Linked DNA regions of Homo sapiens. The protein of the gene in region 2 interacts with the protein of the main gene of each other region in a pairwise test. Each region holds a gene or a part of one and is shown on either strand. Other genes may lie near its edges. The genes, in order: SRPK2, LUZP4 and SRRM4.

Evidence for each region.
Region 1: the proteins of LUZP4 (region 2) and SRPK2 interact in binary tests that used the Homo sapiens proteins (3 or more experiments, as listed by UniProt).
Region 3: the proteins of LUZP4 (region 2) and SRRM4 interact in binary tests that used the Homo sapiens proteins (3 or more experiments, as listed by UniProt).

The regions. Positions count from the first base shown.
Region 1 is NC_000007.14:105,130,221-105,133,971, forward strand, and holds part of SRPK2 (SRSF protein kinase 2), read right to left. Parts: exon of another isoform or gene 2,885-3,751; coding exon 2,784-2,884; exon of another isoform or gene 2,679-2,783; coding exon 2,571-2,678; exon of another isoform or gene 1,547-2,570; intron 1-1,546. UniProt on the Homo sapiens protein: Serine/arginine-rich protein-specific kinase which specifically phosphorylates its substrates at serine residues located in regions rich in arginine/serine dipeptides, known as RS domains and is involved in the phosphorylation of SR splicing factors and the regulation of splicing.
Region 2 is NC_000023.11:115,292,640-115,296,390, forward strand, and holds part of LUZP4 (leucine zipper protein 4), read left to right. Parts: intron 1-3,751. UniProt on the Homo sapiens protein: Export adapter involved in mRNA nuclear export in cancer cells. Binds and enhances the RNA-binding activity of the nuclear RNA export factor NXF1. Can restore mRNA export function in cells compromised by loss of mRNA export adapters.
Region 3 is NC_000012.12:119,145,415-119,149,165, reverse strand, and holds part of SRRM4 (serine/arginine repetitive matrix protein 4), read right to left. Parts: coding exon 3,481-3,751; intron 1-3,480. UniProt on the Homo sapiens protein: Splicing factor specifically required for neural cell differentiation.

The DNA.
Region 1 (3,751 bases), on a different chromosome or scaffold from region 2:
CCAACAGAGTCTCTGTGAGATTTGATGCTATTTATAAATCTCAAAGACAGCCGGGCACAGTGTCACATCCCTGTAATCCCAGCACTATGGGAGACCAGGGCGGGTGGATCACTTGAGCTCAGGAGATCAAGACCAGCCTAGACAACGTGACAAACTCCATCTCTACAAAAAATACAAAAATTAGCCAGGCGTGGTGGCATGTGCCTGTAGTCCCAGCTACACCAGAGGCTGAGGTGGGAGGATCACTTGAGCTTGGGAAGTGGAGTCTGCAGTGAACTATAGTCCTGCCACTGCACTTCAGCTTGGGGAACAGAGCAAGACCTTGTCTCCAAACAAACAAACAAAACCCTCAAAGACTATATATAGGCTTTACCACCAAGAACCATCTGTGGCCTTATGACAGCTTGGTATTATGAGGTCAAATTTAATATATTAAATGTCCTATTTTTACACTACAACAGAACGATGAGGTAAGAAAAACTGCCTCATTGCTCCTAGGTTCTCTAGGAGGAACAAAAGAAACCTCTAAAGCCATGACTTTTGGGGGGTGGGGCAAGCAGTGAATGAGGGCCTGCCCCTTTCCAAAAAAAAAAAAACCTCCCTTATGACAACCAACTGAAAAAGCAAACCTCATAAGCCGTCCTGACAGCACTGAGGGAGCTTATGCTTAATTCTTGGGAAGGGGGCAGGTGAGAAGACAGAAAGGCTTTTCCTTGGGAATCTGTTATTGATATTTATGCCACTGTTCACAGCAATAGCATTTCAAGAAGTAAGCAGGACAGGGAAATTGTATGGAGGGACAAACGTTCATCTAATGGAAGGCAGGTCAGATAACCTGGTATAAAATTGTGCTGAAAGCTCCATTAACCCACTACATCCGTGACTGCGTCCTATTTTTCTGGTTATATCACCAAACTTAATACCCCAAATTAGAAGCACAGCATTTCAGAGTTCAAAGAGTACTTAGCGCCTAATTCGGGGCAGCCCTGCTGCTAGTGGCCATTGTGGTCTAACCTCCCCACATCCTGAAATGGCCCCTGCTCCCCGACTCCCACTCAGTGTCTCCGCAGCTCCCGTTACACTAACTCCCACGTCTCAGTCTGCCTGCTGGGGTCACACAGAGAGGGTCAAATGCCTCTCCACACAGCACTCTCTAAATTCAAAGTGACCATCATTGGCCACCGGTTCTTTTAACCGTTCTTTTCTATACCTAGCTAAGGCAGGGACTTGGTTTTTGATATGGAAGAACTTTAATACCTTTAATAATTTAAACGTTATTGTCTGGTATTATCCTTAAGAGCAACGAGGGAATAGAAAGGCCTGGTGTTTCAGGACCTATCTGGCCATGTGCTGACTCAGATCATGCTGAGTCAAAGCTGAAAGACAGAAAGCACCCTCTTTTTCTCCTATCAGCTGGCACTATCTGCTCAACAATGCTTTTACTTGAGCATTAGAGGAGGTAAAACACAGTAAATTCAAGAAAATTGTTAAATTAACCTCTGAATAACAGAAAATTAATATATTTATTCTGCATTCCTTTTTTCAGTGAGAAGAAAAATGCTAAGCCTTGCACACAATCTTTTCTTTTAAATATTGGAAGAATATGGATAAAAAGCAGTATGGAATAGGAAAAGCATGAAACCCAACAGCAAGCAACCCACCTTTCCCAACACGGAACGCCTAAGTAAATACCACTGAGAAAAAGCTGCTGAATGGGCCAGGAAACAGGGCAGAGGAAGAGAACCAGGAACTGGCTCGCAAATGCAGGGCCCTTTGTGTTCACCAACTCACAGGTTCAGGGTCAATGACCAAACGATGCCAGGCAGGGCCAGGGGAGTTTACAGACAATGCAACTGTGCAGCACAAAACCAGCAGCAAAACAGGCCTGACAGATAGAAGAAGAGGCTTCTGCCGCCCTGTGGAAGCCGTCATCTCAACCACTCTGGGAACAGACTCTGTCAGAGGGAGTGGGCGTTGCTGCCACTGTTTCAGAAGAGGCTAGACATCCTAGAATAAGCCAGAATATCTGCTAGCTCTTGCTTTATAAGGGAAGAGAGATTATGCATTGGCATCTGGGGAAATCCCTTCCAGTCTGGAAAGGTGAGGAACCCTGCATGTCTGGTTGACCAGGCAGAGGCTTACCTGGAGGGGCTCCCACCTGCCCGCCTTAGGCAGTCTTCCCCTGGAGATGCTACCTCATCTTCCTCCACAGTGTGAGTGAAGGGAAAAGCTCCCTATACCCTGCACATTTTCAGGGACCACAAGTGAAGTCACTGTGTCACAACAACTGAGTCTGATTCATGGGGCTGTGGGCTGTGCAGGGCCTTAAGAAGAGACCATGTCTCTCTCACAAGCCCACAACCACACCAAACACCCAGGGCCCGCCTGAGGAGGATCCTTCCACTTCTTAAGATGCCTGCGGCAGCAACCTTCCCCTCACCCAGCCCACGGTGGATGACCCTTACAGTCAGAAAAACTGAGGTCGCATGCCTCAGAGAGACTCAGCCCCATCCAGAGTGTGAAAGGAACGAGCCAATTCCCATGGCAGCAAAGGGCACAGCCGTCCTTACCATACACGCCGTGCTCCAGATGTCCGCAGGGGTGCTGTACCCCGCTCCTATTAAAACCTCTATGGAGCGGTACTGACGCGTCTGGATGTCTTCCGTGAAGTGTTTATGCTGGAAGGGAACAGGCTGCATTACCACGGAGCAACACAGACATTCAAAAAGTGTCTTCGCACACAGAATCAAGACCAAAGGTTTTAGAAAGAAAACTCTACTTACCACCCAACAAGCATTTCCCAGGTCAGCAATTTTTACTCTAATTTTATCTGCATTCCGCGGATCCAGGGGATTCACCAACAAGTCAGCTGCCCGGGTTTTTGCTGGCATGAGCAAACAGCAGGACAGTTAGTGATCGGGATAGGTGGTTTGCATGTGTGAGCACAGTGTTTGCCAGGGTCAGTCTCCTTTCCTCAAGAGTAGTGGAATGATCACTTAGGCCTGGAATACTGTAAATTAAACTTGACAGAACTAAAATTGCTTGTTCTCCACCTCTGGAAAATACTCCAGAAAAGAGCAAACTGGGCTGCCCACAGGACGCCAAGGGCACTGCCTTGACCTTTCTCTTTTTATCCCCAGTTTCTTCGGGTCCAGGTCAGCCCTAGAACAAGCCAGCCTTGCTGTCCCCCTGTCTGCAGCTTTGTGGCGGCTCTTCATGGTGTCAATCCATCCCTTCACGGCCCAGATCGAGCTTGCTGATGCATTATTACAAGGAACATGAAGGTAGAAAGAACACTGCTGTGGGGGCCGATCACTCTCAGTGACACACAGTTCCTTGGACGCCACAAGACATCAGGGTCCCTGGCACCGACACCTCACACCCACATCATCCCCTACAGTTCCCACTGCTTGGGCTGAGCACACACAGATCTCAAGGGGTAGATGACTGTTGATTAACAAACACAGATTAAAGGCAGGGACTAAACTATTCTGGTTTTGTTTTAGACAAGGAAGGTCCCAGACAGAGGTCTCCTGAGATGGCCTGGGCCATAAAGGCAACCTCTGAGGTCAGTCATGAACTTGTCATGTACATGAGCAGTCATTCTAAATTCCAGGATGACTCCAGGGAATCTCAAAGGCAGGTATAGGGCCAGCTTCCCAGAGATTCTGGGGCCAGATCTTCTCAAACAAGTTCAGATCATGCCTGTATCAAGCAGAGTTAACCAAGGGGCAAGTGACAAACAAAAATA
Region 2 (3,751 bases):
GAATTTCTAGCAAAATGTTAATTAGATGCGGTGAGATTGGACATCCTTGACTTGTTTCTGATCTTAGGGAGAAAAGCTTTCAGTTTTTCACCATTAATCATCATTTTACCTTTGGTTGGGTTTTTGTAGATGCCCTTATGAGGTTGAGGAATTTACCTGCCTCCCACTTTACTTCTGAGGGGGAATGGCCCTGAAAAGTAACTAAGTATTTTTTGTTGTTGTTGTCTTTAAGATGTTTTTAGCAATCTATTTTAAGATCGGTATCAATTTCCTCTTCTAAGACATGGTCCCTGTTGATCCCATACTGCTACTTCCCCCTACCCCAACTTCATCACAAGTTCTGAAATATTTTGTGGCATTAAAATGACTTTAAAAATAATATTTGGTCACTGGCCAGGGCTGGGACTAGGGTGAGGTAAATGAGGCACTTGCTTCCAGTATAAAGTTCAAGGAGTCACAAAAAAAAAATTTGTTAATAGGGATAATTAATATTTTAATGAAATATTTAAAAAATCAAATGGACACACTACAGCCATCTGTCTGGCCACCTGTTTTTGTAAATAAAGTTTTCTTGACCTAAGAACTAGAGTGAAACAAGTGAAGGAGGGCTGTGCAAGTACAGGGTCTGATCTGATCCTATTTTTTTTTTTCTTTTTTGAAATGGGATCTCACTCTGTCACCCAGGCTGGAGTGCAGTGGCATTATCACAGCTCACTGCAGCCTCGACTTCCTGGGCTCAGGCAATCCTCCCACCTCAGCCTCCCAAGTAGCTGGGATACAGGCGTGTGCCACCACGCCCAGCTAATTTTTTTGTATTTTTGTAGAGACGGGTTCTCACTATATTGCCTAGACTGGTCTCGACTTCTGGGCTCAAGCGATCCATCCACCTTGACCTCCCAAAGTGCTAGGATTACAGGTGTGAGCCACCACATCCGGCCTTTGATACTATCCTTTTTTTAAAAAAAAAGCTTGATATTTTGTTCATCACGGATTGGTTTTGCATTGATTTTTATTTTTGAAAATACTGTGAGGCGGGCGTGGTGGCTCACACCTATAATCCCAGCTCTTTGGGAGGCTGAGGCAGGTAGATGACCTGAGGTCAGGAGTTCGAGACCAGCCTGGCCAACATGGTGAAATCCTGTCTCTCCTAAAAATACAAAAATTAGCCGGGCGTGGAGGCAGGCGCCTGTAGTCCCAGCTACTTGGGAGGCTGGGACAGGAGATTTGCTTGAACCCGGGAGGCCGAGGTTGCAGTGAGCCGAGATTGTGCCACTGCACTCCAGCCTGGGTGATGGAACTAGACTCCGTCTCAAAAAAAAAAAATAAAAAAAGATTGAAAAAAAGAAAATATTGTGTTGAGATATTTTAATCTTGATTACTGAGTTTTGGGGGACCTCCTTGAATTTTGTGCCTGAATTCCTCACTTACCTCACTCTAGGCCCTGCCTTGTCACTGGGACCTTGAAGGGAGAAAAACCTAGAACTGAAGGGAATTTATAGCACTGAGGTAAAACTTCATGCTTCCTGCACTTTTCTTTGTGTTGATTTCACTGATGTTTTTGCAACTGCTAACAGAAAAGACAAAACAAAACTGATAAATAGCTAAAGCAATGGGTTTATCTCAAAATTCAGAGAAATAAGGGCCATAGTTGCAGAGTGGCTTGGTCCCAAAAATGTAGTAGTTGTGTGACCTTGTGCAAGTTGCTCCATCTCTTGGGGCCTGAGTTTCCTGATCTGAATAAAATCTACATCATAGAGTTGTTGAAGATTAAATGAGAGAATACAGGTAATGTTCACAAAGTATGCTGCCTGACGTGGAAAAAGCTGAGTAAATATTTGCTATATGTGCCCCGGAAAGTGGGCCTAAACGCTCACGTTTGGGTAGCCAGCAATTTGGCAAGCTGGAGAAGTTACCTCTCCTCTTAGGATTTTGTTATCAAACTTCATAGATACAGTAGACATGAAAGAGATTAAAAACCATCTAGGTGAAAGATGGGGTTTAAACAGCTCACGTCAGTCTCTGGGAGACTGAGAGAGATGGTGGTGTCGTGTAACTTGAATAATAGTGAAGTAAACGGACTTAGGAGGCACTTATATTTTAGTAGATGATTACAGCTGGAAGGATACTGGAGAGTCTGCTTTGGGAAAGATTGCTTCAGTTATTTGAAAGGCTGAGGAAAGATGTTGAGTTGAATTTGGTAGGTTAGTTGGAGATTAAGTATGACTGTAAGATCTCATAGTCACCGAGTTGTAAAAAATCTTGAGGTCACTGTTTTATCCTTTTAAACGTTGGTTCTCTATATCCATATTTTAAACATTGGTTCTCTATATCCATATTTATACCTTTTTAGACAGATGAGAATCCCAGTTTTGATCATGTCAGGAGGAACAGCAAAACTTTCGACTAGTTATCACAGGCCCTTGCGGTTTATTTTATTTTTACTTTTATTTAATTTTTTGAGACAGGGTCTCTGTCGCTGAGGCTGGAGTGCAGTGGCACAATCACAGCTCACTGCAGCCTGGACCTCCCAGGCTCAAGCGATCCTCCCACCTTTGCCCCCAGAGTAGCTGGGACCCTAGGTGTGCACCACCACACCTGGCTCATTTTTGTATTTTCTTTGGTAGAGACGGAGTTTCGCCATGTTGCCCAGGCTGGTCTCGAACTCGTGGGCTCGAGCGATCTTCTCGCCTTGGCCTCCCAAAGTGCTGGGATTACAGCCGTGAGCCACCGTGCCAGGCTGAGGCCCTTGCAGTTTGAAGGCAAGAAAAATACACAATAAATAGCAAATACATGTTGCTTTCTATGATGTAATGAGAACGCCATACTTTTTCCTGATAAATTTCCCCATGTTTTTCTCAGTGAAAATAATACTTTTTAACAATGCATATCTTTGTTTTTAGATAACTAAACACATGCTTTAGAAAAGCAGTAGTATGTTGGATGCAAGGTTATTACTTCCATTGTAATACACGCTAAAGTAGGAAAAGGCTCTACAGATTTATTTTTGTTTTTGCCCTCAGTAAACATACCCAAAAAGTATTAGAGTCCTTTTTTTTTTTAAAACAAATAAAAGGCAAAAATAAGACCAAAATTCGAACTGGTAACAGCAAGAACTTAATAGGAACTCCACTCCCCTGTTAATTACTTTTACCTAAAAGAGACTGATGCAAAAGTGTTGTAGTTAGAAAGAAAAGAACTCTTTCTGCCTGCTAGATATGTTGGACCACGAATCCACAAATATGGATTATCCACTCTGTATTCTGTGCTAGGCACTTAGTACACTAGTAAATAAACAGTGGTCTCTTCTCAAGTACCTCCTAATCTAGCTGGAGAGACAGCTAAGTAAATATGTGCAATTATACATTGTTTTAAGTATTCTGGAAGTATGTATAGTCAGAATTTTTCAGAAGTTGAGAGGAACCTAAGTCACTTACATTTTTTGAGGTTTCCAGTGTTTTAAATATTTAAAAAATGGCAAAACAAAAATTGTGGTGTATTTTACATGTTTATAAATATAAAATAGTGGTTTCAACCCACTGTAAAATAAAATGCAATATAAGTATACTTTTCACAAGAAAATTAATTATGCAATTTAAATAAAAATGTAATTATTCATATGGCACCTCAAGCAGTGTGATCAGTTTTAAACTGTGTGAGGAATACTGTCTTTCTTCAGTCCTGACAGTTTATTTCTGAGAGTAAGTATATCAAGAATTCAAATTTAAGGCTCTTTGGTGAGGCCTGGATCAAA
Region 3 (3,751 bases), on a different chromosome or scaffold from region 2:
ATGTTGGCCAGGATGGCTTTGATCTCTTGACCTCGTGATCCACCTGCCTTGGCCTCCCAAAGTGCTGGGATTACAGGCATGAGCCACTGCGCCCAGCTGCCAATGCTATTATTACCCCCAGATTTACAGAGAAGTCTCAGAAGGGTTTGTTATTTCCTCAAAACCACCCAGAGCCCCAAACCTTGATCTGTGCAGCTCCAGAGTCCCCACCCCTCCCACCTCACCAGCTCCCTACCTTCAGTGTCTATGGTTCCTTTGATTTAGAGCTGATGTCTCTTCCACTCAGCCCATATTTATTGAGCCCTCTCTGCTCATAAGTGGCATGACATAAACAGTCATGGACTCAACCATCATTTATATTTCAAAGTGAAAGGCTGGGTCTAAATTACTTAATTTGGCTGTCCATGGAGATCAAATTAAACAGGTAACTGCTAGATGTCTCTCAGGCTTTAGTTCCTGTTTGGGGGACATATTTGTATTTGAATTCTGGTGCTGCCACTTATTAACTGAGTTTCTCAACCACTCTGAGCCTCAGTTTCCCCATCAGGTAAAAAAGGGTTACAAATAGTACTGTCCTATAAAGGTTTTGAGGAGCTCGGGAAGATTATTTCTGGAAAGCATTTGGCAGTGTACCTAGCATGTGATTTGGGCTCAACGAATATGAACTGCCGTTATTATTGTTGTTGTTATTGCTATTTCAATTTTTCCTGCATAATAGCACTGCTGTATATCAGTAAACATGTGTCCTCCTCCTCCCTTCTGGGAACTTCACTGCCTGTTCTTGGAGACACTGACATTGGCTCTGGCCCAGCTCAGGTTCTCAGTCAAGCTTGGGTGTGAGCTGAGGCCAGGGATGACCTGGGGCAGGCAAATGGGAAGGCAGTTCTGCATGTGGATGTCAAGCTGTTTGTCCAGGACTGAAATGGGGTATGTGTTAGGGACAAAGAGTGCTCTGTCTTTGAAGAAGCTGTTAGCTGCTTCAGTGCTAAGGCGTTAGTCATCTTTTGAAAATTTTGGCTATATGGAACAAAGGCAAACTCCCACCCTCAGAAGTAGAAAAACCTCACTGTTAGCATGACAGAGGGCACCAGCAAAGCTTTTCCACCCATCCCGCAACTGTGCATCTGCCTCATTAATTATAAGCTCCTGAGAAAAAGGACTGTTCCATTTTTAAATCCCCAGCACCAGGCTGAGTGTCTGGCAGAGAGGACTTGCCTGATAAACAAGTTGAGGAATAAACAACAGAATGAATGGTACAGACTAAGTGATCAGTAAATTTTAGTAGCTATTATGATGACAGTAACCTCAGTGATTAGCATTTTGTTGTGATTTCTTGAGTGAGAGAGTTAAGCGGATGACGAAGTAGAATTACAACTGGCTCATATGCATCTGTGTGGAAGAGTTTTCTGCAGGAAAACTGCATCTAGTGAGTGTGTTAAGATGGGTAAAAAAATGGAGAAATCTCAATGTTCTCTGATATGTTGATAAATTATACTATGGTATATCTGTATCTATAATTAATAAACTTTATTTTTTAGAGCAGTTTTAGTTTCATAGCATGATTGAATGGAAAGCACAGGGAGCTCCCATATACTTCTTGCTGCTACACACGCACAGCCTTATTCCCCACTATCAGCATCCTCCACCAACGTGGTCCATTTGCTACAATCGATGAACCTCCATTGACACATCATTATCACCCAGAGTCTATAGTTTACATCAGAGTACCCTCTTGGTGTTATACATTCTATGGATTTGGACAAATGTATAATGACAGTTATCCACCATTGTAGTGTCACACAGAGTAGTTCCATTGCCCTAAAAATCCTCTGTGCTCTGCCTATTCATCCCTCTGTCCCCTCACCCTCTGGCAACCACTTATCTTTGTACTTTCTCCATAGTTTTGCCTTTTCCAGAATGTCATACAGTTGGAGCCATGCAGTGTGTGACCTTTTCACATTGGCTTCTTTCACTTAGTAATATGCATTTACATTTCCTCCATGTCTTTTCATAGCGTGGTACCTCATACCTTCCGAGCACTGAATAGCATTCCATTGTCTGGACGTATCATAATTTATGTATTCATTCACGTACTGAAGGATATTCTGGTTGCTTCCAAGTTTTAGCAATTACAAATAAAGCTGTTGTAACATCCAAGTGCAGGTTTTTATGTAGAGATAAGTTTTCAATTCATTTGGGTAAATACTGTGATATGTTCTTTTTTTTTTTTGAGATGGAGTCTGGCTCTGTCACCCAGGCTGGAGTGCACTGGCGCAATCTCGGCTCACTGCAAGCTCCACCTCCCAGGTTTATGCCATTCTCCTGCCTCAGCCTCCCAAGTAGCTGGGACTACAGGCGCCCGCCACTATGCCTGGCTAAATTTTTGTATTTTTAGTAGAGACGGGGTTTCACTGTGTTAGCCAGGATGGTCTCGATCTCCTGACCTCGTGATCCACCCGCCTCGGCCTCCCAAAGTGCTGGGATTACAGGCGTGAGCCACCGCACCTGGCCTGTGATATGTTCTTAAATGACTTACAATTAATTTAATGTTAGACTTTCTTTCATTTTTTTTTTCTTTTGAGATGGAGTTTCACTCTTGTTGCCCAGGCTGGAGTGCAATGGTACAATCTCAGCTCACTGCCACCTCCGCCTCCAGGGTTCAAGCAATTTTCCTGCCTCAGCCTCCCGAGTAGCTGGGATTACAGGCATGTACCACCACACCCGGCTAATTTTGTATTTCTAGTAGAGACAGGGTTTCTCCATGTTGGTCACGCCGGTCTCGAACTCCTGACCTCAGGTGATCCACCCGCCTCGGCCTCCCAAAGTGCTGGGATTACAGGTGTGAGCCACCACGCCTGGTCAATGTTCGACTTCCTTCTAAGATTACTGGTAAAATTGTCATCTGTTTTTTTGCCTGCCTAGCCTCCATCTCTCCTGATACCAATAACCTGGCTTTTCCTGTAGAGGAGTGTGGGAAGGTTCGACTCATTAGCCCTAGTGATGGCATCTGACACATTCTGGCCAACAGCATAGCATCCCCTGGGACAGTGATGGGCAGATGACCTAAGCTGGGCCAAACAGAACCAATAAGCACCTGCCTTGGTGTTTGGCTGAAATCTTTGAGAAAGAAGCATTGTTTTCCTGTTGGCTGGCTAAACCAATAGAATGTTAGCTGCTTGGCATATTTGACAATGCTTTGGGAGGATCTGCTTGAGAATAAGGCCAGTAGGATGAGGAAGCAGAATAAGAGATGTAATGAGAAAGACGGATTTCCAGCAACATATTTTTGAACCCCTGAATCCAGCTGTACCTGAAGCTAGTGCCACTAGTGTTTTAAAACAAGCCAGTCTGAGTTGAGTTTCATCTCTCTTACAAATAAAATAATCTTGGGGGTGGAGTGGGGGAGGCTGGGATGAGAGCATGAGAAGGTGGAGCTAAGGTGGGAGACCGTCTACCCCCGACCCTGTGTGGTGCACTGACCTTGACTCTCTGCCCCTGCTGGTGGGGGAGAGATTCTCCAACATGGCCCCCTTGTTCTGGGGTGAGGAGGTGGTGAAGGAGTTCCCTGAATCAGAGGTGTTGCCACTGTTGAGCTCCCGGCTCTTGCTCAAGCCCCCACTGGGGCTCCCCTTCTCCTGGCCCCGAGACCTGGCTGAGCTGGTTTGCGTGGAGGGTGGCGAGGACGTGTCATTTCCTGAGTCGTACTCCTGGGAACGTCCTCGCGAGGTGGTGAGCGGGCTGGCTGTTTTGG